Linked DNA regions of Homo sapiens. The protein of the gene in region 1 interacts with the protein of each later gene in a pairwise test. Each region holds a gene or a part of one and is shown in the gene's direction. Other genes may lie near its edges.

Region 1 (4,180 bases):
CTGCAACCTCTACCTCCTGGGTTCAAGCGATTCTCCTGCCTCAGCCTCTCTGGTAGCTGGGATTACAGGTGTCCACCACCATGCCCTGCTAACTTTTATATTTTTAGTAGAGACGGGGTTTCACCATGTTGGCCAGGCTGGTCTCGAACTCCTGCCCTCAAGTGATCCACCCACCTCAGCCTCCCAAAGTGCTGGGATTACAGGCATGAGTCACTGTGCCCAGGCTTTTTTTTTTTTTTTTTTTTTTTTAATGTAGTAGATTTCTTGGCACAATCAAATAAATAATTATTATTCTGACTTTGTTTTTTTAAGTTTAAAATTGATTGTAGAAAACATAGATAGCAAAAAGAAGGAAATTAAACTCTTATCCATAATTCTCCTCATAATTCTCCTGGGGATAACCACGATGAATACTTTTGTGTACATACATCCTCCCGGGCTTTTTGAAATCAAGTATGAGATTGTACTACATATACTTTTTTGGTAGCCCATTCTACTCACTTACTATGTCCTGGGAATTTTCACCCACTGTAGAATATTCTTCTGCACCAGCCTACATTGTATGTCTGTCCACGGTATGCATGCACTACAATTTACTGGACACATAGGGTGTTTCTAATACTCTGACCAATATCCTTTAAGATTGCTGTGTTCATACCTACAATTATTTTCACAGGCTCAATTCTAAGAAGTGGCATTTCTATGTGAAAACATTTTTAAGGCAAAGATGCAATTTTAAAGTAACCATGGTAGCCTACTATTTTGACCTAACAGAAGTATACTGTTGATCAAATGTTGGAATGTTCCAGAAAAATTGTCAGAATTATAAAACCGATACTATCACCACCGTCCGTCTCCTTATCATGGTCATTACATTCGTTTACTACTTGCATGAGTATTAATTTTCAGTGATAAATCGTTCCAAACTGGATAACTGAACACTATAACCATAACCGTAATAACGAGTTATTGCTAACATTTTAGCCCCTTAAATCTTTGTAGCCATTCTATAGGTAATATTATCATTTGTGTTTTTCAGATGATATAAGTGAGCCACAAGGAGATTATGTAATTTGTCCAGAGTCATACAGCTGAGCCAGGATGCAAACCCAGGTGGTCAGGCTACAGGAACAGCCAGGCTGCACCACATTATAAATTCTCCAGTTGCTGTAAGCAGCAGCATCATGCTTGTTAACTATTTTTGAGCATCCACTGTGTTCCAGTGCTTACATATGTTATGTATACAAATACATAACCCTGATAGTAACTGTAAGATGAGGGACCCCAGCCTGACTTTGTTCTAGGCCTTCTAGCCAGTAATTGGTGTGTCCAGAATCTATACCCCAGTCCTGCATGTGGACTCCTCCTCCCCACTGGCCAGGCCTGGAGAGGGGCATCTTAGGAGAGGGCCCCTAGGATGACTTCTAGACACCAACAAATACCCTTCTTTCTCTTCACTCCACTTGTTGGGGAGGGAAAATCAGGCCTGCCAGGCACACATTTTCTCATTTCTTATTTCCTGTTTCATTACATCATTCAGGTCTGTATAAACGTCATGTTCTTGTGACACCTCCCCAACCACCCTATTTTACTGGACAGCCCTCATCCCCTCCCCGGCACTTCCTGCCTCCTTTCCTGGTTTACTTCTTCCCTGACCTTACAGCTGACATACCATAGCCACTGGTTATTTATCCTCACTAAAACAGAAGCTCCCCACCAAAAACAGGAGCTCCATAAGGTGGGCTCTTGTGTGCCACTGTCACCACTGCATCCCCTGAGCCTGCAGTGGTGCTTGGCACGAGTAGGTGGTCAGTGAATAGTTCTTGAATGAATGATTGGCTCTTCTATGAATTTGATCTTTGAAAAACTAAAGAGCTGACCCAAGAAGAGACATAGTAGCATTGTCTTCTGTTGGCCCAGAGAAGTGGGTAGCCATAAGCTTTTAGAAGGAATGTGAATTTGCCTTTCCTACTCCTCACTCACCTTTTTGTCCCAAAGGTGTCTGAAAACCTTGTGCAGCGAGATGGTGACTTCCTAGTTCGTGACTCTCTGTCCAGCCCTGGGAACTTTGTCCTGACCTGTCAGTGGAAGAACCTCGCTCAGCACTTCAAAATCAACCGGACAGTTCTGCGACTCAGCGAGGCCTACAGCCGCGTGCAGTACCAGTTCGAGATGGAGAGCTTCGACTCCATCCCCGGCCTGGTGCGCTGCTACGTGGGCAACCGCCGGCCCATCTCCCAGCAGAGTGGCGCCATCATCTTCCAGCCCATCAACAGGACGGTGCCTCTGCGGTGCCTGGAGGAGCATTATGGCACCTCCCCAGGCCAGGCCCGGGAGGGCAGCCTCACCAAGGGAAGGCCGGATGTGGCCAAGAGGCTGAGCCTCACCATGGGTGGCGTCCAGGCCCGAGAGCAGAATTTGCCCAGGGGAAACCTCCTCAGGTAGGTCAGGGCCTCCTCTGCAGGACTATGAGGGGCGCCGGGGTGCCCAAGGTTAGTTAGGCAGGTGAAGAATTCATCATGGAACAAAGAAATAAAAGATGTTAATAGGAATGCCGACTGTTCGCAGAATAGCTGTCACGAGGCAGTGAACAATTAGCTCCCAGCTGAGCAGTGTCAGCAATGAATGGTACAGGAGCTGAGGAAGAATTTCGGGGGGTGCTGATGGGGATACCTTGTGAAGGGGGTAGACTTAGGCTGGTCTGATGGCTGGGGGAAATTTGGATAGATGCTGCAAAGGGCTGGGGGTGTTCCAGGTGGGAGGCATAGCATGGGCATAAGTGTGGGGACAGAAAATGGTATGAAGAGCTTGAAGTGAATGTGCTGGTAGGGCTGGAACAAAGGGTCTGTGCAAGGGACCCGTAGCAGTGGGCTTAGGGAGATAGCCCCAGCCAGATCATGGGGGCCTTAATGCCAGGTGCAGGGCTTTAAGGGAGCTGTACAGACTCAGCATAGCGAACACGGTGTCCTAAGAATAGAAATGGACAGTGATGTACCGGGGGTGAGGAGAGAGACAGGAACAGGAAACCCAGTTAGTGAGTCATGGAGGGCCCCGGCTGCAGGAGTGGAGTGGAGGGAGAGTCAAGAGATGTAGGAGCCTGGCCTCCCAGGACTCTTCTTCACGTGGTAGAGTCAGAGGAGGGCACATTGGAGACCACAGGAGTGACCAGGAGGGAGGGGACTTTGGAGGATAAAACACACTTTTTCATCTGAGCTGGAAGACTATGGGCTTGTTGAGTGCCACAGTCCAGCAGCAGTTTTGGGGTCCAGGAGGGGAGTTAGAGCTGAAAACTTAAATTAGGGCTTGGTCCACCTGGAAAGGGTGGTTCACTTGGTGAGAACAGATGAGATTTCTAAGATAGGAGATGCAGAGAACATGGGGTCTGTAGTCTGAATCTCAGGGAATGGGGGAAGAGAAAGATTCAGGGCACTTGGTGGAAAATCAAGGCTTCAAAACCTCACTGATCCTAAGCACCCAGCTGTCAAATGTCAGCGACGTTGGCCTGCATTTGTATAGGGCCCGTCTTTCACAGAGCTCAGAGTCTTTGTGCATATTATCTAAAAGCACTGGGAAAGGAAAGGAGGGAAAAGGCAGGCATCGGGGACATAGATCCAGTCCAGCCCCTCAGTCACACAGCAGCCCTGACCCGGCTCCCAGCTTCTAATCTTATGCACGTAAACCAACATATTTTATTCTACTCACTGGTTTTTTTTTTTGGCGGGGGGGTCCATGAGGAAATGTCATAAACTGTCATTTCTATACTGCAAAACTTAGGGAGGAAAATACAGGACTCTGTGTGGAATGTAAATGACAGCTGTGTGCTGCCTGGAGGCTCCGGCACATGCTAGTCAGCATCTGGCTGGGGACCCAGTAGCCAGGCACAAATGCCGGCTCCACATTGGGCAACTTTTCAACCATGGGCAAGCGACTTGACCTTCCTGGGCCTCACCTTCTTCATCTAGAAAGATGGAGCTTGTGAGGTGTACATGATTTAATATATGCAAAGTGCTCAGAACAGTGCAGGCACAGAGGAGGTGCTAGGGAAGTGCTCATGATAATTATTATCTGGAGGAGAGTAGAATGTCAGACTCAGACCCAGCACAGTGGCTCACAGCTGTAATCCCAGCACTTTGGGAGGCTAAGGTGGGCAGATTGCCTGAGCTTCAGAGTTCAAGACCAG
Region 2 (4,180 bases), on another chromosome or scaffold:
CTCGATTTGGTTTTGTAAGAGTGTTTCTGTGTTTATCTCCTGGCCAAAGCATGAATTTCTGAAAAGGCTGCCCTGAAGCTAGATATTATCATCAGGAGTGATAATAAAAACAACTTCTCTTCATCCTGGTGCAATTTTGGAAGGAAGAATGATAAGTCGTTAATTATCCAGTCCTCTGAATATTGACCAAAGGGAGGAGGAAGAAGGTGGCCGCCTCCAGGCCCAGTCTTGATGAATTCTGCAATCTGTCTCCATTATTTCATGCCTGTGTAATTTTGTCAAGAGTTGTCCAATACCTCTGAATCTTTGTTTTTCTCCCCTTGGGAATAATAGTGATTCCTGACTCAGAAAGTTATGAGTTAATATATGTAAAGTGCTTATGACAGTGCCAGACATATTGTTACTATTCTTTATAGATGTCTTATTTACGATCTAAATAATCGTGACGGTGGTTACATACTGTCTTGTTATTGGTTAGTGACCTTAGTTTGAAATGACAAAGAGGGGTTGGCTCTATCAGGCTTCCAGATTGTAGACTCCAGTTCAAGTCAGTTGAACTAACCAATCACAGATCTCGCTTTCACCAGGCTAGTGGGTAAGGAGAATTTCTGGAACAAGATAAGAAGAAGGAAACTCATATATGTTACCGCCCCACATTTTTGTCATCATCATTTGAGATCTCCTTGTTGTGTCAGGTTCTCTGAAGTTCTTTCCTTTCACATGAGTTCTTCATTGTTTTTCATGTCATGGCCCCTTTTAGAGCCTGGTAAAGCCTATGGGACCCTTATCAGAACACTGTTTTCAACGCCTATGATGAAATACATAGGAATACCAAGGAAAACAGTTAAATCGAAATAGCTATGAAGATACTAAGTAAATTTGTGATATGTCAGTACATGTGTTTACTATAGAGTGTAACAGGCTCTGTTAGGTTGGTGTAAAAGTAATTGTGGGTTTTGCTATTTTTTCTAAAAACCACTGTAATTTTAGAGTGGTGATTAATGTAAATATGATTTTGAGATACCTATAAAGACTTAATAGGATATGAAGATATTTATGATTACTGTTCATGACAAAGTCACAGGTACAGCTGATACTACTGCGTTTTATCACCTTTGTTAGTAATTTAAAGAAATGCTAAATTTCATCTAGAAATTAGCGAAAATAAGGATGTCATTTTTCCTTTCCAAGTTCACAGGCCCCTGAATTTGACACCCATAGATCTCAGGTTAGGAGCCCTTATAGGAACTTTAGCACAACATCTAGGAAGGGAAGGGATATTGGAAGTTTTTTGTTTTGTTTTTGTAAGCTGACTAAAATAACTTTAACACCAAAAAAAAAAAAGAAAAAAAAAAAAAGCTTTCCCAGTTTTCAATCCTAAATGGATTAAGAGAAGGATTGATTTAGCTTTTTATGGCAGATTAAGATTGGGAATCCAGAATGCATCTAAAAGGACTAGTTACAGAAAGTTTAGCTCAACTTTAATGGAGAGAGTTCTCCAAAGAGTCAGGATCACAAGCCACTACTGTTTATCAAGTACTTGCCTTTCTTCTAGGCAATTTTTCAGATAGCACTGAGTCAGGCGGTGCTAAGCATTTTTACCCATTTTATCTTATTTAACCCACAAGACAATTCATAAAATTAAAAGTATTCATTTTGTTTTACAGAAGAAGATACTGAGGCTTAATTACAAATATTTTAGTGACTTTCCCAGTGTATTAGAGAAAGTTTTGGGTTTTGACAGAAAACCCAAAATAAAAGAAGTCTAGGAGTAGACTTTATACCAGGATTGGTATAAAGGTTCCATGGAGTACCCGGGCAAGTCTTTCCTTTCCATGCTTAGCCATTCCTGAGTGTAACCCCCATGTCCATGGTCCAAGATGACCACCAGGTGGATAGCCAGCCATCATATCCAGAAGGCAGGGGGCCCTTGCACTAGAGAAGAGAGGGCAGAGGGCACGTGCCAGCTATATTGTAAGGAGGTTTTCCTGAAGCTGCTATACAGCACTTACAACTTAGTGGCCAAAACCGAGTCACCTAACTACAGCTAGCTAGCTGCAAAGGAGGCTGGGAAATGTAGTCCTAATTGTGAGAGGCCGTGTTTCTGTTTTTAAGGAAGGAGAGGGACATATTCAGTGGAAACTAACAAATCTCTGCATTACCTAAGGCCCATGGTGGAGCCAGGGCTAAAATGTCTGGCTGTCTCTGACGTTTGTGCTCTTAATCTCCATGCCGTACTGACATAGTGCTCACATCTTAAAATGGGGATAATGCACTTGTGAGCCATGTATTTCAGAGGTGATTGGGATCATCTGAGTTCATATAGGTAAAAGGTTTTTGTGAGATGGTACTCAAGTTATCACTCCACATTTCAGCAACAGCAGCATCTATAAGAATATCTTCTGTTCAATTTTGTTGAGCTTCTGAATTAACATTATTGACTCTGTTGTGCTTCTATTACAGGCTCGACTACCTGTGAAGTGGATGGCACCTGAAAGCATTTTCAACTGTGTATACACGTTTGAAAGTGACGTCTGGTCCTATGGGATTTTTCTTTGGGAGCTGTTCTCTTTAGGTAAAATGATCCTTGCCAAAGACAACTTCATTAGACTCAGAGCATCTTCTTGAAGTTTCATTGGTGTCCTGCTTCCTTGTGATTAACACTGCTTTGCAAACTGTGTCTCAGGAAGCAGCCCCTATCCTGGAATGCCGGTCGATTCTAAGTTCTACAAGATGATCAAGGAAGGCTTCCGGATGCTCAGCCCTGAACACGCACCTGCTGAAATGTAAGAGCCAAAAAATTTTTCCTTTAGGTCACGTTTTCCCTTTTATTTTTCTTTTTAGAGACAGAAACCCAGATGTTGAGGGTTTTCATAACACAGTTTGAAATGTCACTTGGATTCTTTATGACACACTGGTCAAATGTCATTTCTGTAGTTTATTTTCATAATCTCTTGTCACCAAAAATACAGAAAGTTTCAGTAATATTTCATACATGCAGTGTTTTATGTTATCTATATGTCAGTCCATATGTCCAGTTGCATAGCCCTGGAATTATTACTGAAGTTGCTGGATGCCCATACATTTGAAAACAAGCTGAGGGCATTGAGGAGGGATAGTAAATGGCCCTTGTCTTGCAGGTATGACATAATGAAGACTTGCTGGGATGCAGATCCCCTAAAAAGACCAACATTCAAGCAAATTGTTCAGCTAATTGAGAAGCAGATTTCAGAGAGCACCAATCATGTGAGTATACCCTGGCCAGGCATAGAATCCCCCTTCTCCCAGTTCCAGGTGTGTCCTCCTCCTCAGGCTTTCAGGGTGAGGACTAACCTCCCAACCCCTTCTCTCCTAATCTTAGGTTGCAAATTGGGCTTCAGGTAGGGGAAGTAAAGCAATGGAAACTAGTTCTTTCTGCCCAGCCCTCCTGTTCTGAGCCAAAGAAGGATGTGAGATTGAGGGGGAAGGGTGGAGAGTTTTGTACTCACTGGAAGTAGAAGTTTCCATAAGGATTTGCCATGTTTCCTCCCTCATCTCAAATGCTGGTCACGGGGTCAGTATTTTCTCCCTCTCACATGTCAGGGCCATGCATCCTTTGGAGGGTTGGGGTGATGTGAACTAGAATAAAAGCATAGAAAAGACAGCTTGTTACTGCAGTGAAATAAGCCTTCTGATCAAACAAGCATAGCCAGAAAATGGCAGATAGCTGTCATGCCCACAAGCCATATAGAATGAAGAGCTGTTTGAAGTTGGGAGATCCCTCCCAGTGATTTGGGAAGTGTGGGGGAATGAAAACTCAAATCCATTATTTCCTCTCTTTTTAAGCAAGAATTAGTGATACTTTGACTCAGATTTTTTTAAGCTGCTTTCTTTCCTGGGCTGTGTGCTTGGAGCTATCTTTTCTTTCCTAATAGCACACCACTGATAATTTTTGGGTTAAAGCTTGTTCTTCTGGGTGTCAAAACATGTTTCAAATTGAACAGCATTTTCCACCCAGTTGCTTTGATTCTTGACAAGAGACCCCTGGAAGGGCCGTGGGTTTCCCAGCAAATTACATTGGTTATTGGGTTGTAGTTGCTGGAGAGATTTACAAGCCTTTTAAATAGGTAAGATAGTGCTTGGTGCCTGGTGTGCCCTTTTAGAAGAGCTAAGCTTGTGCATGTTTTGTCCCCACTTCTTG
Region 3 (4,180 bases), on another chromosome or scaffold:
AAATCATTTTATCACCTTATTTTAATTTCATTGAAAGCAGCAAACCAAATCCCAACCAAATATCCACTAGTAATGGGAAGCCTGGTGCTGTGAATGGAGCTGTGGGGACCACGTTCCAGCCTCAGAATCCTCTCTTAGGGAGAGCCTGTGAGAGCTGCTATGGTAAGTTTTCTCTAGCAGGTCAGTTAAGCATCGGGAACTGTTCTGGCTCATGGGGTGTGAGCGTCTGGGAAGTGCCTGAGGTCAGTACGGTGCACCTTGGAAGGCACAAGCATGTCTCCTCTAAATGAGTAGATGCCCCTCCTTACCTTCTGCCTGGAACAGAGGGACTGTTTATTGAATCCTTATTACGTACCACACACTCAAGTTAGGCATTGGATTTCCCTTGATGTACTCTTGTGGTTTGTTGATTATTTCATAGCAGTGTTTGCTGAGTTGTGTTTAGAGTCATATTAGCTTTGCAGAAACTGTGTTCCCATGATGCATACCAAATTCCCCTTTGGAGTTTCTCAGTATACTTTGACAAATTAAAGCTCCAAGTAATTCTGTAGGAAAGGCCTCTGTGTGGATAAGCTGCTGTATATAATCCTCAGACCATGTTCCCTCAGTGCACCAGTTTGGGAAATGCTCTTCTATGATACTTGCTTTTGGCCTCAGGATCCCACTGTATTTATCTATGGTGGCAGTATTTTATTTGCCCAGGGTGTTAAATGGGGTCGGTGAAGTGAACCGTTAGGTAGTTGATAGACTTTGTGTGTTTATTTTAAATCTCAAGCAAGGATACAATATCTTAATGGGGCATTGGTGATATTATCATCTATGTTTCCTTCCAGTTAAGGTAGCCTGGGATGGGAGAGGGAAGGAAACGAATGTTTATTGAAAACCTACTTGGTGCCCCATTTTGGGTTCTTAGTAGCTCTTTGAGAGTACATGTAGCCTACTGCCTTCAGGAAGGATATAGGAATGAGGGACGGCTGTGAGTACGATTACGTCGATTGATCCCAAGGAAGGTGTGAGCCAAGTTGCTGAATTTGTAGAAATGGTACATGGGGATGTGTTTAACCATTTTTTTGCAGCATGGGAGCACAAAGGGAAACAATTTGTGGAAAATTAAGATTTTTTAGGTCAGGCTTTTACATGGATAGCATCATAAATACCTTGAATTGGGAATTCTTGGATTTTGTAGTTCATGTATATTCAAATGAAAATGAAAAGAATCCTGCAGACAAGTGGTAGTGGCTTAACCTGTCTTGATTTTAACTTGCAGGCAGGGTGCTGTGGCTCATGCCTGTAATCCCAGCACTTTGGGAGGCTGAGGCGGGTGAATCACCTGAGGTCAGGAGTTCGAGACCAGCCTGGCCAACATGGTGAAACCCCGTCTCTACTAAAAATACCAAAAATTAGCCAGGCATGGTGGCATGCACCTGTAATCCCAGCTACTCAGGAGGCTGAGGCAGGAGAATAGCTTGAACCCAGGAGGCAGAGGTTGCAGTGAGCTGAGATTGCACCATTGCACTCCAACCTGGGTGACAGAGTGAAACATCGTCTCCCCCCCGCCCCCAAAAAAAAAATTAACTTGCAAACCCCTTTCACACTCACGTATATCCCCTTAAATGATTATTCTGTTATTTTTATGTGTGCATGATGAATAAGCTATTTTTATTTTATAATATTTACTTTAGACTCATGTATTACTAATCTCCATGATAAAATGTTATCTTAATATAAGATTTATCCTTACAGAGAGATAGAACTTGATGTTTTCTATTTATTAAATGATACCTACTTTCCAATTGAATTTGAGTTATTTAAGGAGAAAGGCATTTATTGACAATTATTAAAATGATTTGCATGATTAGTTTACGTAAAATGTATGTTTTAAGTGAAATTTTATATTTAGAATTCAAAATAGATTCATAGCTTAATGTTTAAGATTTTGAAGGGGAACATCACATCTGGGGACTGCTGTGGGGTGGGGGGAGCAGGGAGGGATAGCTTTAGGAGATATACCTAATGCTAAATGACGAGTTAATGGGTGCAGCACCCCAGCATGGCACATGTATACATATGTAACTAACCTGCACATTGTGCACATGTACCCTAAAACTTAAGGTATAATAATAATAAAATAAAAAATTTAAAAAATGACTTATTAGTTCTAAATTATAGGAGGAAAGGCTTTTAGGCTTTCATTTGTATAAAATAGTTATTTGTATAAATGAAAGCCTAAAATAGGCCTAAAATATTTACACAAATAAAAGCCTAAAATAATAATCCTCCAAAAATAATACATGATGGGTGTACAGTGTTATTCCCGATAAACATGAATATAATGGTCTCTGTATTTTCTCTTTTTCACATTGGTTTGTGAAGTGTTAGTTGATATCTTCATGTGCTGTTTGAACATTTGAAGGTAACTTACAGGTCAGAGAAATAATATTTTAAGGCAAACTTACAGAATTACAATTTTTTATGCACCCAATTAACTTATGTCTCAACCTCAATGTTTTCTCTTAAACTTCAGATCTATCACACATGTATTTTAAATGTCACATGTCAGTAATTTAAACTACAAAACAAAAACTAACACAAGCTTACAGTGTTCAGCTAGCTGTTAAATCATCTGAGTTTTAGGCCTCAAGCATGCTGTGATGTCAGCTGCCCATGCTCACTTCATATGGATTTAGAGTCTTGAAAGGGATTCTGTCTGTAAATGGAGATTTTAAAATAAGGATTTTACTTATTGATTAAAATAAAGGAGTGCAAAACAGATACCTGTTTGTTTCTTCTCTCCTCCCCTACTCCCTCCCTCTTCCCCTCCCCAGCCCCCTCCTCCTCCCCGCTTCCCTCTGTAACCCAGGCTGGAATGCAGTGGTGCAATCACAGTGGCCTCAACCTCCCAGGCTCAAGCAGTCCTGCTGCCTCAGTCTCTGTAGTCGCTGGGACTACAGGGGTTCACCACCACACCTGGCTGACAGATACCTGTTTTTATTAGATTCCTGACTTTATCAATGAGACCTCCCTGAGTACCTTAAATAATCCTTGGAGTGGTGTCTGAACCCTGGGTTTGGAAACGTGGATTTAGATTTTTTTTTTTTTTCTTTTGAGATGGAGCCTCACTCTGTCGCCCAGGCTGGAGTGCAGTGGCGTGATCTCAGCTCACTGTAACCTCTGCCTCCCACATTCAAGCAATTCTACTGCCTCAGCCTACCGAGTAGCTAGGACTACAGGTGCGTGCCACCATGCCTGGCTAATTTTTTTTGTGTGTTTTCAGTAGAGACGGGGTTTCACCGTGTTAGCCAGGATGGTCTTGATCTCCTGACCTCATGGTCCGCCTGCCTCAACCTCCCAAAGTGCTGGGATTACAGGCGTGAGCCACCATGTCCGGCCCCAGATTTTTTAAATACTACCATCTTTTTGAGAACCTATTTCCAGAAACATACACAATAGAGTATTTTTAATCAACAAAACAAAAACTCCCTCAGCAGCACAATGCATAATACAGGATGCTTCACTGAATAGCTTTAACAGGGCCACAAGCACTTTATATAATAATGGAAATAAGTTGGTTTAATGAATTCTGAGTATTAAAAAAACAAATATACTATTATGTTTGGCTTGTAAGCTGGGAACAATAACATTGTAAACTAAGCATGACAAGTATTTTTAAAATGTTTGATTATTTTGTGTTGATGTTACAAATTAAATAGCATTTTTCGTTTTTTCTTATTTTTCTTCTGCTTTAGCTACACAGTCTCACCAGTGGTATTCTTGGGGCCCACCTAATATGCAGTGTAGATTATGTGCAATTTGTTGGCTTTATTGGAAAAAATATGGAGGCTTGAAAATGCCCACCCAGTCAGAAGAAGAGAAGTTATCTCCTAGCCCAACTACAGAGGTACAGTAGTCTTTTTAGTGTTGAAAAATGGCATGTTTTTAAATGGGTTGATTATTCCTTGGAAACAGAAGTACAGTATAGGATAATTAAAAAATGAAGAAAGCTACCTTTATAGCTAAACGTAGCACTACAATATTCAGGGTAGGTGTGGAGAGAAGCAGAGAGAAATTAAATTTTATCAGGTATTCAGAATAATGGTCTCAGACAAAAAAACAATGAGTGTGGGAGATGTTAGCATAAGTAGAGAGCTTACAAATTAAATGTTTAATTGCTTTTGAAAAC
Region 4 (4,180 bases), on another chromosome or scaffold:
AGCCCCACGTGGCTTCCCCCAGCAGGGAGAGAGAGAGAGAGACAAGCAGGCAGACGCAGGGAAGCTGTTGTGCACCATGGGATCAGGGAGCCGCTTGCGAGATGAGGACAGGACAGCACGAGGAGGTGAGGCTGGGGAAGGTGACAGAACCGGAGCCCTTGGGGCCATGTCCGGTTCCCTGCCCCTCCCAGGGCTGTCATTTGCTTGGCACCTCAGTTTTCCCAATTCCCTCAGAGGCGGCAAGCTGGTGAGGGGCTTTTGTTTGTCTACCCAGTGCTTTTTGGACATCATGCATAAGACTGCACAGACTCTCCTGCCACTCTGCAGACAGGAAATGCAGGCCCTGCACATGTTAGCCTGGCTGGAGCCAGCATCTGGGCCCAGGTATCCAAGTCGGTGGCCTTTGGCCCACTTGCTGGTGTGAGCATGGCCTCGTGCAGCATAGCAGTGTGCAGTGGTGGCCAGGGCTGCAGCCCCAGCGATTCTTCTGCCAGTCACTCTGTGCCCTCAGCACGGGGCCTCTGATCTGTGCCTGTTTCCTCACCTCTAAAATGGATGCAAGAAGAGATGCTCCAGCATCTTGGCTCACGCAGGACAGGCTAGGGGGTGCAGGACCGTCGCCCCGGTGTGGATTTTCAGTTGCACTTTCAGATGCATCTCGGCATGCGCAGTGGGTTACAGCCCCTCAGGTCATCTCCCCACAGTCCCTGCCCCAGAGGTTGTCGAGGCGTGTGTGGAGCAATGCCTGGCGCAGTGGAAATGCTGTCAGTGTTAGCCACTGTGACTGGATTTAAGTTGATTATTTTGGATCAAGTGTTATCACACTTCAGGGTGGCCCTGAGAAGCAAGAAGGGGTCAGGACTCAGGAAGCACCATCTCTCATAAGCCCTGGGGGGTGAGGGGCCAGTGGCCTCCCTGGGAGGCCAAGAGGAGAAACAGCTTTCAAGAAAAGCAAGTCTGGCCTGGTTCAAGAGACCCCAGCCCAGCCCAGCCCATCGGCTGAGCAGGGACCACAGGGTCCTGGCCCAGGTCCAGCCGAGCTCATGGACTCTCAAAGCTGACTCAGCGTGGGGACCAGCTGCCGGGCCGGCCCGGAGCATTCAGGGGGCTCCTGGGAGGGAGGGACTGGTACCTGATAGAGAACCCTCAGAGGGGGCTCCAGGCACGCATCATCAGGTCCCAGTGTGGCCTGAGGCCTAGAGGGCAGGACCCACAGTGTCCACCTCATGTCCACAGGGCCTCGGCATGAAGGCTGGAGGGGTGAGCCTGGGGACCCTCAGCCAGGCGTGGGTTGGTGTGGGTTAGGGGTAGACCTTAGCCACAGCTGGGACTCTCCCAGCTCAGGGGATGCCCAGGAGAGGGATGGGCTTGGAGGTGAGAAGGGCGTTGAGAGTGGGGTGGCCAGAGGGTCACATGATGTGGTAGGAGGCAGTGGCTGGTGAGTTGGGGACCTCCCCTCACGCCCACACCGCCACCCCCAGGTCAGCGCCAACGGCAATGTCCTGCGCAGCGAGATCGTGGGCTCCATCAAGATGCGAGTCTTCCTCTCGGGCATGCCCGAGCTGCGCCTGGGCCTCAACGACAAGGTCCTCTTTGACAACACGGGCCGTGAGTACCCTTGCCAAGGGCCCTGCCCATGAGGATGGCCTCACCAGGCACACACATTACAGCCTAGGGCAGGGTTGGGCCAGGCGGAGGAACGAGCTGGTTTCAAGCACTTGGTTGAGCAGCACTTCACACTGCTTGAGACAGCTGTGTAGAGTATTCATCCTTCCCTGGACATAGAAGGTGCAGGGGAGTGAAGATCCTCCAGTCCAGCTGGGAGGCCCCCGTCACCCGGCCTCACACGCCAGGTCCTGCACCCTGCCCTGCTCTGCCTGGGGCACTGGGGCCTAGGCTAAGGCCTTGCTCTCTCCCTCCCAGGCCAGGTTTCTCCCCTCACCTTGGGCCCTAGGTGTGGGCCGTGTGAAGGCCACGCATGGTGATTCTCGCTCCCGCCGCCTGGCCTCTAACACTTCCCACAGCAGGGCGGGGGCAGAGGGGCCCAGGGCCTGGTTTTGTGAACTGTGCCTCCCACTCAGCTGTCACAGGCCACTGGAAGAGGGTGCAGTGGCTGGGCATGCCCCCGTTCCTAGCCCGGTGAGGGCTTCTCGGGCATCAGTCTATCAGGGCAGCTCCCCGCCTGGGGCTGGGCAGGGCCCCACCCACATAGCCCTCAGTGAGGTGGCAAACCAAGGTAGGACCCAGGACCCCGTGGATGCCAGGGCCTGAGCCCTTGGGGAGCCCCGAGCCATCCCCCAGCCAAGTCCACTGATCAATCATTCAGTGAACGTGTCCTGAGCAGGTCCCCTGGCTGGGCCCTGGGATGGCCGCTGGGGACTCAGCATGAACCAGACCCACCAGCCCTGCCCCTGGGGACCCCAGGGGTGTGAGGAGTGATGGGGCAGTTGTCTTGGGACCCAGCCCCCTTGGTGTTTGTGGCCCAGGCTGCTCTCAGTGCGTGGACTGGGGGCCCTGCTCTGCCGGGGTGGGTTGCAGGTGGTAGGAGTACTGCTGAGATAGTGACCCGGAGGGCCCAGATCTGTCCTACCCTCACCCCTGACCCCAGGCGGCAAAAGCAAATCCGTGGAGCTGGAGGATGTGAAGTTCCACCAGTGTGTGCGGCTATCACGCTTCGAGAATGACCGCACCATCTCCTTCATCCCACCCGACGGCGAGTTCGAGCTCATGTCCTACCGTCTCAACACCCACGTGAGTGCGCCACCCTGGGGCTGGGCTGTCGGCAGACTCCTCCTCCCCTTCACCTCCAGGAGGTGAAGCCCAGGCAGGCGCCAGGGCCAGCCCCACCCCACGCTCCATGAGCTGCCTGGCTCTGCAGAGATGGAGTCTGAGGACTTGGGACTCCGAGCTTTCTGAGGGGCACAGACCCCTTTGGCCACCACCACCCCTTTCCCAGGCAGCCCCCAGAGCAGGCCCTGGTCATGTTTTCTGCATTTGCCCCAAGGCCTCCCCGGTAGCTCCCGGCTACCTCGGCCTGTCTGCCCTGGCCCTCCCTGACGCTGGCTGTACGCTCCCTGCAGGGCTCTGGGCCCACACCTGGGCAGATGGTCCCTTGCCCTGGGCCTTGGTTTCCCCTCTGAAATGGGCCTTTGTCAAACAAGGCCAGGTGTGAGCACCCTCTTTGCCCTCCTTGGCAGGTCAAGCCTTTGATATGGATCGAGTCGGTGATCGAGAAGCACTCCCACAGCCGCATCGAGTACATGATCAAGGTGCGTGGGCCGAGGCCACCCACTGAGGGCCTTCTGGTGTCTCTGGCCCGTCCCAGGAGCCTAACCGAGGGCTGGGGGTGCCGTAGGGCTGCCATCCGTGCACCCTCACTGTGGCCTCAGATGCAGGAGTGACCTGACACTGAGGGGACACCGCCTGGGGCCTGCTCCTAGATGGTGCCACTTGTGGGGAGGGGCCTGTAGCCAGGCATCCAGGACACTCCCAGAGGTGTTGCCCCCAGGTGGAGCACCTCTGCCCCTCAGCGACCCTGTCCAGCGCAGCCTGGCCCTGGGACATAGACATTGTCCTAGGAGGGCAGGGCAGAGGGAGGGATGAGGAGCCTTGGAAGCTGAGCAGACAGGAGGATGAAGATGAAACTCCTGAAATTAGGTCTTGGGAGAGTCTCGAGGGCAGGAGAAGGGGTGGGTAGTGCCTGGAGAAGTGGGGCCAGGGGCGGGGCTAGGGAGGATCCCCCGGGCCAGGCTGAGGGGCATGTGTCCTGGAGAGGCTGGCCAGCTCACCTTGGCCTCCATAACCCCGGGCCGCATTGGCCTGGCCTGCAGGCCAAAAGCCAGTTCAAGCGGCGGTCAACAGCCAACAACGTGGAGATCCACATTCCCGTGCCCAATGATGCCGACTCACCCAAGTTCAAGACGACGGTGGGGAGCGTTAAGTGGGTCCCCGAGAACAGCGAGATCGTGTGGTCCATCAAGTCCTTCCCGGTGAGCACTCTGTCCAGACATCCACGTGCCCCCTGCGCCTGTCTCTGCAAGGCAGCCTGGGTGCCTCAGGACCCCCTGCACCTCAAGATGGGGTGACAGTGGCCACTGTGTCTTCCACACCTGGGGCTTCTGAAAGGGTGGACGGAGAGCTGAGGACTGGAGTGGGAGGAAGCAGAGGCTGACTCGGCCCC
Region 5 (4,180 bases), on another chromosome or scaffold:
ATTGATGGAAAGATTTGAGACATAATTGACATCTTTGCTGATAGAGACTAGCGGCCACCATGCTCTCGGGCTGCCTCTGAGGGGAAGGGAGTTTACTGGTGGTCATGAAGCCAGGTGTGTGGGTCTAAGGGTGCCAGGTGTGTGGGTCGGGTGAGGGCTCTGATTTGAGGTGACCTCACCAGGTACCAGCTGCGTGAGTGATTCTTCAAGCCACCCACTGCCATGGGCCTGTTCTCTGCTCTGGGGATGGAGAGGAGGGCCACCGTTTCTCTAAAACCCTCTCCTACCCGGATGTGCTGTGGGGAGTCCTTCATCCTCTGCCCTGAGATAGCCACGGGGAAAATCAAACAATAAAAACCAGGTCCTGGGAGGCTGGAGTGTCCTCTCCAAAGCAGGAGGGCAGATACTGATCCTGGGTCTCTGAACGTGCAGTGTTCCCAATGGGATGCCCCCTCCTCCTCCAGAAAGTGTAGGCCACGGGCAAAATGGGCAACCCCTTCACAGAGTCCACTAAAGCCAGTTGCCAATTTTGGATCAGAAACAAGCCCACTGCTGTGAAGGGCATGGCCAGCACCTGCCCACTGCAACCCAGTCAATAAGACTAGGAACCCCACCAAAAAATAGGGAGGCAATGGGGTCCCCTAGACTGTCAAGAGCACCCCAACCTCTCACTAGTAACCAGGGAGGTGGTGCAAATTAAGATATCATTAGAGCAAACAAGGTAACTCCAAGTGTTGATGAGGGTGAGGGAAGCAGGGCCTCACACGTCACTGGTGTCACTGAGGAAGGCAGTGCTGGGTATCTGCCAACCTTGGCAATATGCACAGCCCACCAGCCTCCGTCGTGCGTCTAAGCAGATTCCCTGGAGAAATGCAAGGAGCCTAAAGAGACATGTACAAAGATCTTGATTGCAGGGTTATGAAATGGTTTTAAAATAAAATAATTTAGATGTTCATCAATGCGGGAATGAACAAGTGCAACATTGTATATGTATACATGAACTATTACACAGCCTTTAACAAATTCGCGCTGACAAACTTCACTAGACACGTGTGTATCAACAGGGATTAATTGAAAAGACATGGTAGAGGAAAAATGCCAGTTGTAGAATAATTTGAATAACAGCTTATGATTTATGTAAAACAAGTGCTATCTATAAGTCCGTTACTTAAATTTCTGGGAGAAGGCAAAGCAGCTTCACCCTCTGGGTGAACCCTGGAAAGGGGGAGGGTGGGAACCACGATGGAGAGGAGTGGCAACTTCTTCTGTGATTTTTATTGAAGAGAATATGGTCTTGCGTAAGTTCTGTTTCCTCTAGTGATTGAATACTACTTTCTAAATTGAAAATTATATCACAGGCACTTTGCTGAGTAATTAGAAATTCTTCCAAACCATGATTTCTAATGAATGCACGGTAAATAGATTTGCTATCAGTTATGGAGTTTTTCTTCTTTCTTCTAAATAACCCTAAATAACCTTCTAACTTTCTTCTAAATAGCCCTAAATAGATGGTTCATGTGCAAAGTTTTGCCTATACAGTACTTTGTGCTCTTTCCTCGGGAGAAATTTCTGGAAGTAGAATTATTAATGCAAAGAGTGTGGGCATTTTAAGACTCTCAATACCTATTGGCAAATTGCTTCACATAAAAGTTGAAAGGTCTGTCCTTAAGTCCTGCTGCATCTTTTACACATTGAGCAGAACTTTTATCCTTTTTATTGAAAAAATCTTTGTGAACTTGACAGATGAGAAAAATGCCGTCTCGGAGCTATTTTATTTCCATTTTTATTGTTAGTGACAATGAACTCCTATGTTGGGTCATCCGTCGTTTTTCCTTTAATTTAAAATAACTGTCTGCCTGAAATCCCAGCCAGTCAGGAGGCTGAGGCAGGAAAATTGCTTGAACCGGAGAGGTGGAGGTTGCAGTGAGCTGAGATTGTGCCACTGCACTCCAGCCTGGGTGACAGAGAAAGACTCCATCTCAAAAATAAAATAAAATAAAATAAAATAAAATAAAATAAAATAAAATAAAATAAAATAAAATAAAATAAAAACTGTCTGAATCTAAAGAAACGCAGCAGCTACCTAAATTTTGTCTAGGTTTTTGGTTTTGGTTTTTATATGTAATTTGAAGTTTGAGGTAAAATACAAATGTGAGGTTTTTCCACAAAATTTTCCCACACCATCAAGGAGATGCTGGGCCCACGGATCATTGGAAGACCAGGTTTTAGGTCTTGCTGTCAACTTTCTTTCATTTTTTCTACCTTTGACTTTGGAATCAGACTAAGGTGGGTCTGAGAGCAGGACTTACACTGACCAGGTCTGTGCCACACACAGCTGTGCCGCAGTGCCTCCCACCAGTAGGATGGCTGTGAGATTAATTTATGTCATGAGCATATATGATGTCTTCAGTGTGCCCTATAATTCTGCATTGCTGTCATTGTCATTCTGTTGTGTATCCTCAAAGGGGAAAACTCTTTTTGTTGTGACAGTGGGTGATGCCGGCTTGCTCTCTGTTGCAGGCTGCATGATCATTGCAATGACCCTTCCCTAGACGACCCCATCCCCCAGGAGTATGCCCTTTTCCTCTGTCCAACGGGGCCCCTGCTGGAAAAACTTCAAGAGTTCTGGAGAGAGAGCAAGCGCCAGTGTGCAAAGAACAGAGCTCATGAGGTCTTCCCACACGTGACACTCTGTGACTTCTTCACGGTGAGTCAACCCAGTGTGCCTTCAATGCTCACGGCAGCTGGAGGCATTTTTCTGTGCTAACTAGGCCATGATGGGACAAAGTTGACTTATTTAAATGGGATAGTCCAGAACTGCATCATTAGCTGGCACCTTCATATGAGCTGTCCTTTATTTTCCTCTTTGCCTTCATCTGGTCAACTCCTATTAATCCTTCAGAACCCAACTCATTTATCCTCTCCCCTTTTTGAGTCTTCTCCAGCTCCCCAGGCAAAAGGAGTTGCTGCCCATTTTCTCGTTCATGTGTCTAGTGGCACTTTTGTATCATACGGGCCATGTGTCTGGTGCAGCACCGCATCCCTCACCAGACCGAGTCCCTCAAGGGAAGGCAGATACCTCACTCATCTTTGCACCCCCAGAAACTAGCACAGCCCCTAAAACAGAGTTTGTGCTTCCAAAATGTGTGGTAAGTCAACTCAAGGATGGGTGATTGTTGGCTACCCACAAATGCAGAACTTTTCCCTGTCTCAGGGACCAGCCGTCTGATTCAGAAAAAAAATGGCCCAGTGGGTAGCTCCACAGCAAAACACAATGGCCCAGCAGGCAGCTCTACAGGGGCACCGGGAAGACAAGAAGAATGTGGGAGCTGCTCAGGAGAAAAGAAGGAGAAGGGAGAGACAGACAGCCACTGCTCTACTCAGCTCCGCCAGAGGGGCTTAAGGAAGGGCACACCCACTTCTGCTACCGCGGCCTGGCCCCAACTCTGCTGTTGGCAAACTGATTTGTTCCACCCATTTCAAGGAATTCCATCAGGGCCCAAGGAACCCTCCATTCCAACACCAGGCCCCTCGGTGCTGGATGGAAAGGAGGAATGCAAACCTCTGAAGGGAAAAGATTTCTGGAAGATGTCCCAGGAGAAGCAGTACCTTCCAAAGCCTCCAACCACCACCCCGGATTGCCCGAGACTTGCAGGGATCCCCAGAGCACAAGACTAAACCTGGAAAAGCCCCAGAAAAATCGAGAGAGTTTTCCCCCTACATCGACATCAATGGTACTTGTGACAAGCTGACTCCCTTCTGGTTCACCCTCTGGAGCCAACGGGGAAAGGCAAGGCAGCCCAAGCCATGTGACACAGCTCAGAAATCAGAGCAGGCCTTGGCCCCCCACTCCTTCCCCAGCCCACTGAGGTGCAAGCACACACACACACACACAGATAGACACAGAGACACACACATAGCTCACACACATAGACACACACAGATTGACACAGAGACTTACACATGCACACAGATACACACACATACATGCATACAGACATACATAGATATAGACACACAGACACACACAGATAGACACAGAGACGTACACACGGCACACACAGATACACACACATACATGCATACAGACATACATAGATATAGACACACAGACACACACAGACATGGAGACGTACACACGGCACACACAGATACACACACATACATGCATACAGACACA
Region 6 (4,180 bases), on another chromosome or scaffold:
TTAATTTTCCTAGTAAGCAAAAGAAACTACATCTTAGGTGAACTTGTTTTTTCTTTTTTAGTATAAATAATCTGGCATACTGTTATTTAAAATTTCTTGAACTAGATATCCAAACTACAAGCAAATGAAATATTTCTGGGTCAGCATTATGTTTCAGGAAACTATGACTGGGCTTCGTAATGTATTAGATTAGGAGGCTGTAACTTAGTCCTTGTCTTTGACTGTGTAACATTACTCGAGTCATTAGTCAAATTGTTGGATTTTTTTTCAGATAGTTTCCTCATTTGTACACAAGAAAAGCCAGATACTTTACATCTCTGGGTTGTTGTAGGGATCATCTGCGAGTATGTGAATAGTACTTTGAAAATATAAAGTGGCCGGGTGCGGTGGCTCATGCTTGTAATCCCAGCACTTTGGGAGGCCTAGATGGGAGGATGACTTGAGATCAGGAGTTCAAGGCCAGCCTGACAAACATGATGAAACCTCGTCTCTACTAAAAATATAAAAATTAGCCGGGCGTGGTGGCACATGCCTGTAATCCCAGCTACTTGGGAGGCTGAGGCAGGAGAATCACTTGAATCCGGGAGGTGGAGGTTGCAGTGAGCTGAGAACGTGACATTGCACTCCAGCCTGGGCAACAAGACTGAGACTCTGTCTCAAAAAAGAAAAAAAAGAAAATATAAAGTACGGTACAAATGTCAAGTTTTAATTCAGACGTACTGAAAGGGACTGAGTGTTGCTTTCATTAGTAATTTAATCATAGAGATAAATATGGGAAGAATTTTTATTTCATGATATCTGGGGTTTAATCTGTAAGTCCCCAGAATTTTTGTTATAACAAAAAGGGACCAGATACGGGCTCTTTAACCGAAGTACTCCTACTCTGGGCCTCCCTGCTGCTACTAAACCACCTTACCTCACTCATGTATGTCACTTTTATAGTTTTCTTTGGAACATCCATTGGTTATGTGTCTTCTGCTATGAATTTTCTATCACTAACATGGCTTTGAACGTGATTTGATCAGATGGCCCATTTTCCTGTCTTCCTCTATTCCCAAAGATTAATGAATTTAGTTTTCTACCTGACAGCTACCTTTTAGTTAATCTGGAAGCTTAGAAGAATCACAGGTCATTTGATGACGACTTGTTATTTTCTCTGATTTAAAGGACATGCCATGGAATTTTTCTTTTTTTCTGTGTATGTGCTTTATTAAATAGAAGACAGAATGGTGGAAGAAACAACCTGAAATGTAATTAAGAACTCTTAACTAAATAGAAAAGAGTTCATTATTGGATTTCTCAATATTAAGCTAAAGAGTCAAGTTAGTGTTAGAGATATATTTTAGTAATATGCTCTATTTTTTGTTGGCCATAATTTCCTTTATATCTTCTGTTTACCAGTGCTGTAATGCTATATATCAACCTTTAGTCAGTTTACCTTCATTTTTCCCTCCCTATTAAGAATGCCCAAAAAGTCCTATCTCTGTATTTTGGTTTGGAGCTCTCTCATTTATTGGAAGCTCTTATTCTTTGAAGTTGTCATTTCTTTTCATTATGTGCTGTTAACTCCTTTCACCTACTTATCATTTGATACCTTTTGCCTTTTTCACTGTGCCTGTATTTTATGTTTCACACTAACATTCTCCCCCCATTTTACTTTGCCCATTCTACAGAAGTTTTTAAATCTTTTTTATTAGATAACATACATGGTACAGGCTAAAAGGCACATAAAGCTTTCCAGTGAAAAGTATCTTTTTCATCCTTATTCCCTAGTTACCATCACCTTTCTATGCAGGCAACAAGTATTTAGTTTCCTCTAACTCATTCTGAAGATAATCTGTGCAATAAGTAAATTAATGCATATATTCCTTTTTAACGCTTTTAGAAAATATGGTATAATGCCATATTAATGTACACTGTTTGCATTTTGTTTTCATTTATATCTTGGGAGATCATACCATATCAGCATATGTAACACTCTCTCATTCTTTTTATGGTGTCATGTTTACTCTTTCTTGAACTGAAATTTTAGACACCCTGAATATTCTTCTAGGTTGAGGTATTTCTTCTGGATATTCTTCTTTTAAAATTAATATAGTACTCAACTGATAGGTTATGTGCAAATAATGATCTCAGAATCTTTTTTTCATGTACAGAAAATGTTACTGTTATAAGTAAACAAACTTTTACATTCTAAAAAGATAATGAAAATTATTTTTATCTTTATAGTTTGAATCAGCTTGGGTACTGACAAATATTGCTTCAGGAAATTCTCTTCAGACCCGAATTGTGATTCAGGCAGGAGCTGTGCCCATCTTCATAGAGTTGCTCAGCTCAGAGTTTGAAGATGTCCAGGAACAGGTAAAAATGAAACAAAAAGAAGCAGGTGAAAGAAAGTTTTTGGCTGGGCATGTCGCTCACTCCTGTAATCCCAACATTTTGGGAGGCCAAGGTGGGTGGATCACGAGGAGTTCGAGACCAGCCTAGCCAACATGGTGAAATCCCGTCTCTACTAAAAATACAAAAATTAGCCGGGCATGGTGGTACGTGTCTGTAATCCCAGCTACTTGGGAGGCTGAGGCAGGAGAATTGCTTGAACCCGAGAGGTGGAGGTTACAGTGAGCCGAGATCGCGTCATTGCACTCCAGCCTGGGTGACGAGAGCAAGACTTTGTCTCAAAAAAAACAAAACAAACAAAAAAAGAAAAACAAAAAAAACCACAAAATTTCCCAACATAATAAGGGGCTGAGTTTCACCAGTTGGCTTTGGTAATCTATGGATTGTCACAAAGGAGTGTTCTAGAAATTTAGTCTTAACCAAATAGAAAATTTCTTAGTGACTGTAGGCAGAATTTCTCTTAGACACATAAAATAATCTTCCCCTTCCAAACCTGACATTCTTTAAGCCCTGTATATGTACTTTTTTAGACCATGTAAGCAGTTACTGATAGAGGTTTTTTCTTGTAGAAATTTCAAGTGTTGAAAGTAGGCCAGGTGCTGTGGTTCCTGCCTGTAATTCCAGCACTTGGGAGGCTGAAGTGGGCAGCTTGCTTGAGCCCAGGAGCTCGAGACCAGCCAGGGCAACATGGCGAAACCCAGTCTCTACAGAAAATAAAGTAGGTGGGCATGGTGGCACACGCCTGTTGTCCCAGCTGCTTGAGAGGCTGAGGTGGGAGGGTTCACTTGAGCTCCAGGAGGCTGAGGCTGCAGTGAGCCGATATCACACCACCGCACTCCAGCCTCGGTAACAGAGTGAGACCTATCTCAAAAAAAAAGAAAGTGGCTAGTCTTTGCCACTTTTGTGCAGAAAAGTACAGAAAGCAAGTTTCTTTTTGTTCACTGTTTTCTTATGTAAGCAAGAAAATACTCTCTTTCTGTCTCTTTTTTTCTTTCTGTCTTTCTCTCTTTCTGTCTCTCCATCTTTCCGTCTTTCTTTCTCTCCGTCTCTCCATCTCTCCTTCTCTCCGTCTCTCCTTCCCTCTGTCTCTCCTTCCCTCCGTCTCTCCTTCCCTCCTTCCCTCCGTCTCTCCGTCTCTCCCTCCCTCCCTCCTTCCCTCCTTCTCTTGCTTCCTCCCTCCCTCCCTCCCTCCCTCTCTCCTCCCTCCCTCCTTTCCCTCCCTCCCTTCCTTCCTTCCTTCCTTCCTTCCTTCCTTCCTTCCCTCCTTCCCTCCCTCCCTCCCTCCCTCCTTCCCTCCTTCCCTCCTTCCCTCCTTCCCTCCTTCCCTCCTTCCGTCTGTCCCTGTCACCCAGGCTGGAGTGCATTGGCTCAATCTCGGCTCACTGCAACCTTGGCCTGTCAGGTTCAAGCAGTTCTCATGCCTCAGCCTCTCAAGCAGCTGGGATTACAGGCGCCTGCCACCACACCCGGCTAATTTTGTATTTTTAGTAGAGATGGAGTTTCACTGTGTTGCACTCCATACTGGGTGACAGAGCGAGATTCTGTATCAAAAAACAAAAACAAACAAAAATGAATTAGTTCTTTCCTTTAATAAACCGAATACCTTCTGTTTGTTGTACACTTTAGGATATTATTTATCTTCCTCCCCCAATCCTACAACTGTTTCATTTGACTCCCTGATGAACGTGTTATTGTGATATACTGGCATCTGAAAGAATTATGAGGGAATTAAACTATGTAACCTTTATTAATGAATGATTCTTTCACAGGCAGTCTGGGCTCT
Region 7 (3,571 bases), on another chromosome or scaffold:
ACGTTGGCCAGGCTGGTCTCAAACTCCTGACCTCAAGTGATCTGCCCTCCTTGGCCTCCCACACTGCTGGGATCACAGGTGTGAGCGGCAGTGCCTGGCCTGGACTGTTGCTGGAGAGGCAGGTTGTGCAAGCTCCCAGTTCTCTGCTTCTTCCTTGTTTTCTCTCCACCCTTGGAGACCTTTTTCTGCTGACAACCCTGTGTGGATGGATGCATCCATCAAACCAGGCTGCTATTCGCTGGATCTCTCAGAACGCCCACTGGAGTCCCCAGGCCGCTCCCGTTGCCTCGGCCAAAAGATGAGTCTCAAACTCCCATCACCTCTCTCTCCTCAGGATGTTCTTGAGTCGAAGAACAGCACCATCAAGGACCTGCAGTATGAGCTGGCCCAGGTCTGTAAGGTACGGCTGTGCCCTGCCCTCCCTCAGGGGCACCCCCTCGGTGCCCAGACTGTTCTAAATGCAGACGGTCTCTGAGGACCCCACCTGTGCCCACTTCGTACCTCGTTTGACAAGGCAGCTGTCACTGTCCCCACGTGAGGGTGCAGTCATAGCCGAGAGCATCTGGATTCTGTGTGGTCTGGGGCAGTGCACTGCTGTCTAGGCCATGTCTCTGCTGGGATGGGTGTAGGGGGGGACCTGGACGCTTCCCTGGTCAGCCCCTTCCCCTGGGCAGGGAGTCAGAAGGTGCTGTGCCCACCGGGGAAGGAAACAGACGTCATTCAACAGGGGAAGGGAGGGCGTGAAGAACCTGAGTGGGAAACACCCAGCCAGGGCCCAGAGCCCTCCCAGACCACAGCTCTGCCCTGAGTGTCCCTGCCCTCTGCCTCCGTCTCGTCATTTGTGGAATAGGAATAGTGACAGCCTCTCCCTGTCGTGCTACCTGAGCCAACGCAGTGAAGGTGCTTGGAGCTGTGTCCCACACGGGAAATGACTGATAAGCCTTTGGCTTTATCCTTCTGCACCGTGATGCTCACGCTGCCCCTCCATGGAGCTGCACTCAGCTCTGGTGGTCCTGAGCGTGGGGACCCTCAGCTCCCTGACACTGCCCTGTCTCCACAGGCCCATAACGACCTGCTGCGCACGTATGAGGCAAAGCTGCTGGCCTTCGGGATCCCTCTGGACAACGTGGGCTTCAAGCCCTTGGAAACAGCTGTGATCGGACAGACACTGGGCCAGGGCCCCGCGGGACTGGTGGGCACCCCGACGTAGCTGCCCCCCTGGGGGGCCACAGCCCAGAGAACCAGCCTAGGAACACTCGGGATGACACCCCTTATCACACCAAGGACAGCAAGTTTTTTAGATTTTATCATCAGCAAATGAAAGCTTTTCACATGTTCTTGCCATCCTCTTTCCTGGCTCTGTGGAGGAGAACCACCTGCAGGACCCTCACCCATGGTGTCCCTGTCGCTCCCTTCCCTGGGTGCCGCACGTCCAGCCTGTGTCCAGGCCTACTCCCTGGTCTCACCTCCGACCACAGTCGGCGGCACCTTCTCAGAGTGCCCCGCACTCACCTGGGGGTTGGGGCAGTGCCGCGCTGTGCTGCCTGTCTTCGCGCCACTGTTGTCCCACCGAATGGACAGCTTTGCAGGTGCTGGCACTAACTTCATTGACACCTGAGTCACAGCTGCCCAGTGGGATTCTCCAGGGGGCCGGGACTTCCCTAGGAAGTGGTGAGCCAATGCTCCCTGATGAGCACAAAGCCCGCTCTGTTGAGGGCTGGGTGGGTGCAGCCAGCGTGCGGGAACGGGCAGGCAGCCTCCCGCTGCCAGTCTTCGCTCTAACTCCCTCGGTAGGTGATGTAGGACCAGGGGCACGTGGAACTTCTGGGCCTTGCTGGTGATGGTTAAAACAACCTGAGATGGAGAGGCCAGGAGAGAGTATAAGGGGATAGCAGCAAACCACCTATCTGGCCCCAACACACCTGAGAGAATTCAGCAGCCCAGACTGAGGGTCTGGGATGGGGTGAACCTTCCGCACCAGAGGGACACTCCACAGAAGCCACAGCCCAGTAAGTCAGGCGCTTCTGCGGCGGCTCCAGTGTGGGGTGAGGCAGTGAGGTTAGGCCCAGAGAGCTGGAGTTGGCTCAGATGAAAACCTCTGTCAACAAAGAGGGGATGAATCACCCTTGGCCCAGCCTCCCCACAAAGCCTGACCCTGGGCAGGTGAGTGACGGGTGTGTCCTCGTAGAGTCTATTGCTGCCTGGACACCTTTCTTTTGGGAGCTCAAAGCAAGTGAGCTCACCTACCTGCCACCGCCCAGGACCAGTCTGCCCACTGCCTAAATGATGCCCGGCCAGCAGGACCTGGCCTGCAGATCCCAGTGAGTCATGAGCCTCAGCCCCCTCCAGCCCACTGGGGCTCTCACCTCCACATGTGGGTAGAAGCTTTCCTGCCCCCTCTTCCTCCAGTAGCCCTCAGTGTCGAAGGTGAGCTTGTAGGTGCCTGCCTTCATCTGGTCCAGGACAGTGACCATCTGGGTCTGTGTAGCTGGGGAGAGGATGAGGCTGCAGAGATGGGGACCAGAAGCCCCCCACCCCAGCTTTCCTGGGTCTGCATCCCAGTGGGCCTCAGACACTGCCCTGCCACCTGTCAGACTTGGGTGAGCAGACACAGTGAGGCTGTTAGGTCCTGCAGTTCCAGAGCAGTCTAGGGACACCACTGCCCTGTCTTTAGGAAATCACAACACAGAGAAGCAAAAAGGGAAAAAGTCTCCCACAATTTATCCCATGAGCAAGAACCACTTTATAGCTGGCATATATTTTTCCAGATTTTCTCTATGCATAAGTATATTTGTTTAAAAACTTATAAAGTGGATTATACTATTTGTATTGTTTTATAACCTGTGGTTTTCACTTAAAATATTGTGTATGGCTGGCTGGGCGTGGTGGCTCACACCTGTAATCCCAGCACTTTGGGAGGCTGAGACAGGCGGATCATGAGGTCAGGGTATCGAGACCATCCTGGTTAACACGGTGAAACCCCATCTCTACCACAAAAAAATTAGCTGGGCGTGGTCACGGGCACCTGTAGTCCCAACTCGGGAGGCTGAGGCGGGAGAATGGCATGAACCCAGGAGGCGGAGGCTGTAGTGAGCCGAGATCGTGCCACTGCACTCCAGCCTGGGCGACAGAGCGAGACTCCATCTCAAAAAAAAAAAAAAAAAAAAAAAAAAAGTGTGTGGCTTTCTGGGTCAATAACTACCAAACCTTCACCCACAGAGTGGGCCTGTCCAACTCCACGGAGCGTCTGTGTTGTGTGCCCTGGTCCCTTATCAGGGTTCTGAATAACCGTGGCTTTGCCCATAGTCACTTCTGGAAAACCTCCCATCATTCTTGCCAGCTGGTCTTTAAAGTGTGCGCTTCTGCTGTGATTAGAAAGAGCAGGCCCGAACAAGGTGGCTCACACCAGTAATCCCAGCACTTTGGGAGGCCAAGGTGGGTGGATCACGAGGTCAGGAGTTCAAGATCAGTCTGGCCAAGATGGTGAAACCCTGTCTCTACTAAAAATACAAAAATTAGCCGGGGGTGGTGGCAGGTGCTTGTAATCCCAGCTACTCGAGAGGCTGAGGCC

The links.
Region 2: the proteins of BCAR3 (region 1) and KIT interact in binary tests that used the Homo sapiens proteins (3 or more experiments, as listed by UniProt).
Region 3: the proteins of BCAR3 (region 1) and MTA3 interact in a two-hybrid assay, tested with the Homo sapiens proteins (one large-scale study listed by BioGRID and IntAct).
Region 4: the proteins of BCAR3 (region 1) and AP1M1 interact in binary tests that used the Homo sapiens proteins (3 or more experiments, as listed by UniProt).
Region 5: the proteins of BCAR3 (region 1) and UBASH3A interact in binary tests that used the Homo sapiens proteins (3 or more experiments, as listed by UniProt).
Region 6: the proteins of BCAR3 (region 1) and KPNA1 interact in a two-hybrid assay, tested with the Homo sapiens proteins (one large-scale study listed by BioGRID and IntAct).
Region 7: the proteins of BCAR3 (region 1) and DRC4 interact in binary tests that used the Homo sapiens proteins (3 or more experiments, as listed by UniProt).

What each region holds. Positions count from the first base shown.
Region 1 is NC_000001.11:93,587,238-93,591,417, reverse strand, and holds part of BCAR3 (breast cancer anti-estrogen resistance protein 3), read left to right. Parts: intron 1-250; exon of another isoform or gene 251-1,998; coding exon 1,999-2,441; intron 2,442-4,180. UniProt on the Homo sapiens protein: Acts as an adapter protein downstream of several growth factor receptors to promote cell proliferation, migration, and redistribution of actin fibers.
Region 2 is NC_000004.12:54,734,035-54,738,214, forward strand, and holds part of KIT (mast/stem cell growth factor receptor Kit isoform 1 precursor), read left to right. Parts: intron 1-2,463; coding exon 2,464-2,575; intron 2,576-2,686; coding exon 2,687-2,786; intron 2,787-3,140; coding exon 3,141-3,246; intron 3,247-4,180. UniProt on the Homo sapiens protein: Tyrosine-protein kinase that acts as a cell-surface receptor for the cytokine KITLG/SCF and plays an essential role in the regulation of cell survival and proliferation, hematopoiesis, stem cell maintenance, gametogenesis, mast cell development, migration and function, and in melanogenesis.
Region 3 is NC_000002.12:42,704,157-42,708,336, forward strand, and holds part of MTA3 (metastasis-associated protein MTA3), read left to right. Parts: intron 1-37; coding exon 38-162; intron 163-3,746; coding exon 3,747-3,898; intron 3,899-4,180. UniProt on the Homo sapiens protein: Acts as a component of the histone deacetylase NuRD complex which participates in the remodeling of chromatin.
Region 4 is NC_000019.10:16,224,940-16,229,119, forward strand, and holds part of AP1M1 (AP-1 complex subunit mu-1), read left to right. Parts: intron 1-1,481; coding exon 1,482-1,608; intron 1,609-2,608; coding exon 2,609-2,751; intron 2,752-3,197; coding exon 3,198-3,269; intron 3,270-3,830; coding exon 3,831-3,989; intron 3,990-4,180. UniProt on the Homo sapiens protein: Subunit of clathrin-associated adaptor protein complex 1 that plays a role in protein sorting in the trans-Golgi network (TGN) and endosomes.
Region 5 is NC_000021.9:42,406,902-42,411,081, forward strand, and holds part of UBASH3A (ubiquitin-associated and SH3 domain-containing protein A), read left to right. Parts: intron 1-2,520; coding exon 2,521-2,707; intron 2,708-4,180. UniProt on the Homo sapiens protein: Interferes with CBL-mediated down-regulation and degradation of receptor-type tyrosine kinases. Promotes accumulation of activated target receptors, such as T-cell receptors, EGFR and PDGFRB, on the cell surface.
Region 6 is NC_000003.12:122,452,051-122,456,230, reverse strand, and holds part of KPNA1 (importin subunit alpha-5), read left to right. Parts: intron 1-2,229; coding exon 2,230-2,361; intron 2,362-4,166; coding exon 4,167-4,180. UniProt on the Homo sapiens protein: Functions in nuclear protein import as an adapter protein for nuclear receptor KPNB1. Binds specifically and directly to substrates containing either a simple or bipartite NLS motif.
Region 7 is NC_000016.10:90,042,136-90,045,706, forward strand, and holds the end of DRC4 (dynein regulatory complex subunit 4), read left to right. Parts: intron 1-334; coding exon 335-400; intron 401-766; exon of another isoform or gene 767-1,060; coding exon 1,061-1,210; 3' UTR 1,211-2,825; downstream 2,826-3,571. UniProt on the Homo sapiens protein: Component of the nexin-dynein regulatory complex (N-DRC), a key regulator of ciliary/flagellar motility which maintains the alignment and integrity of the distal axoneme and regulates microtubule sliding in motile axonemes.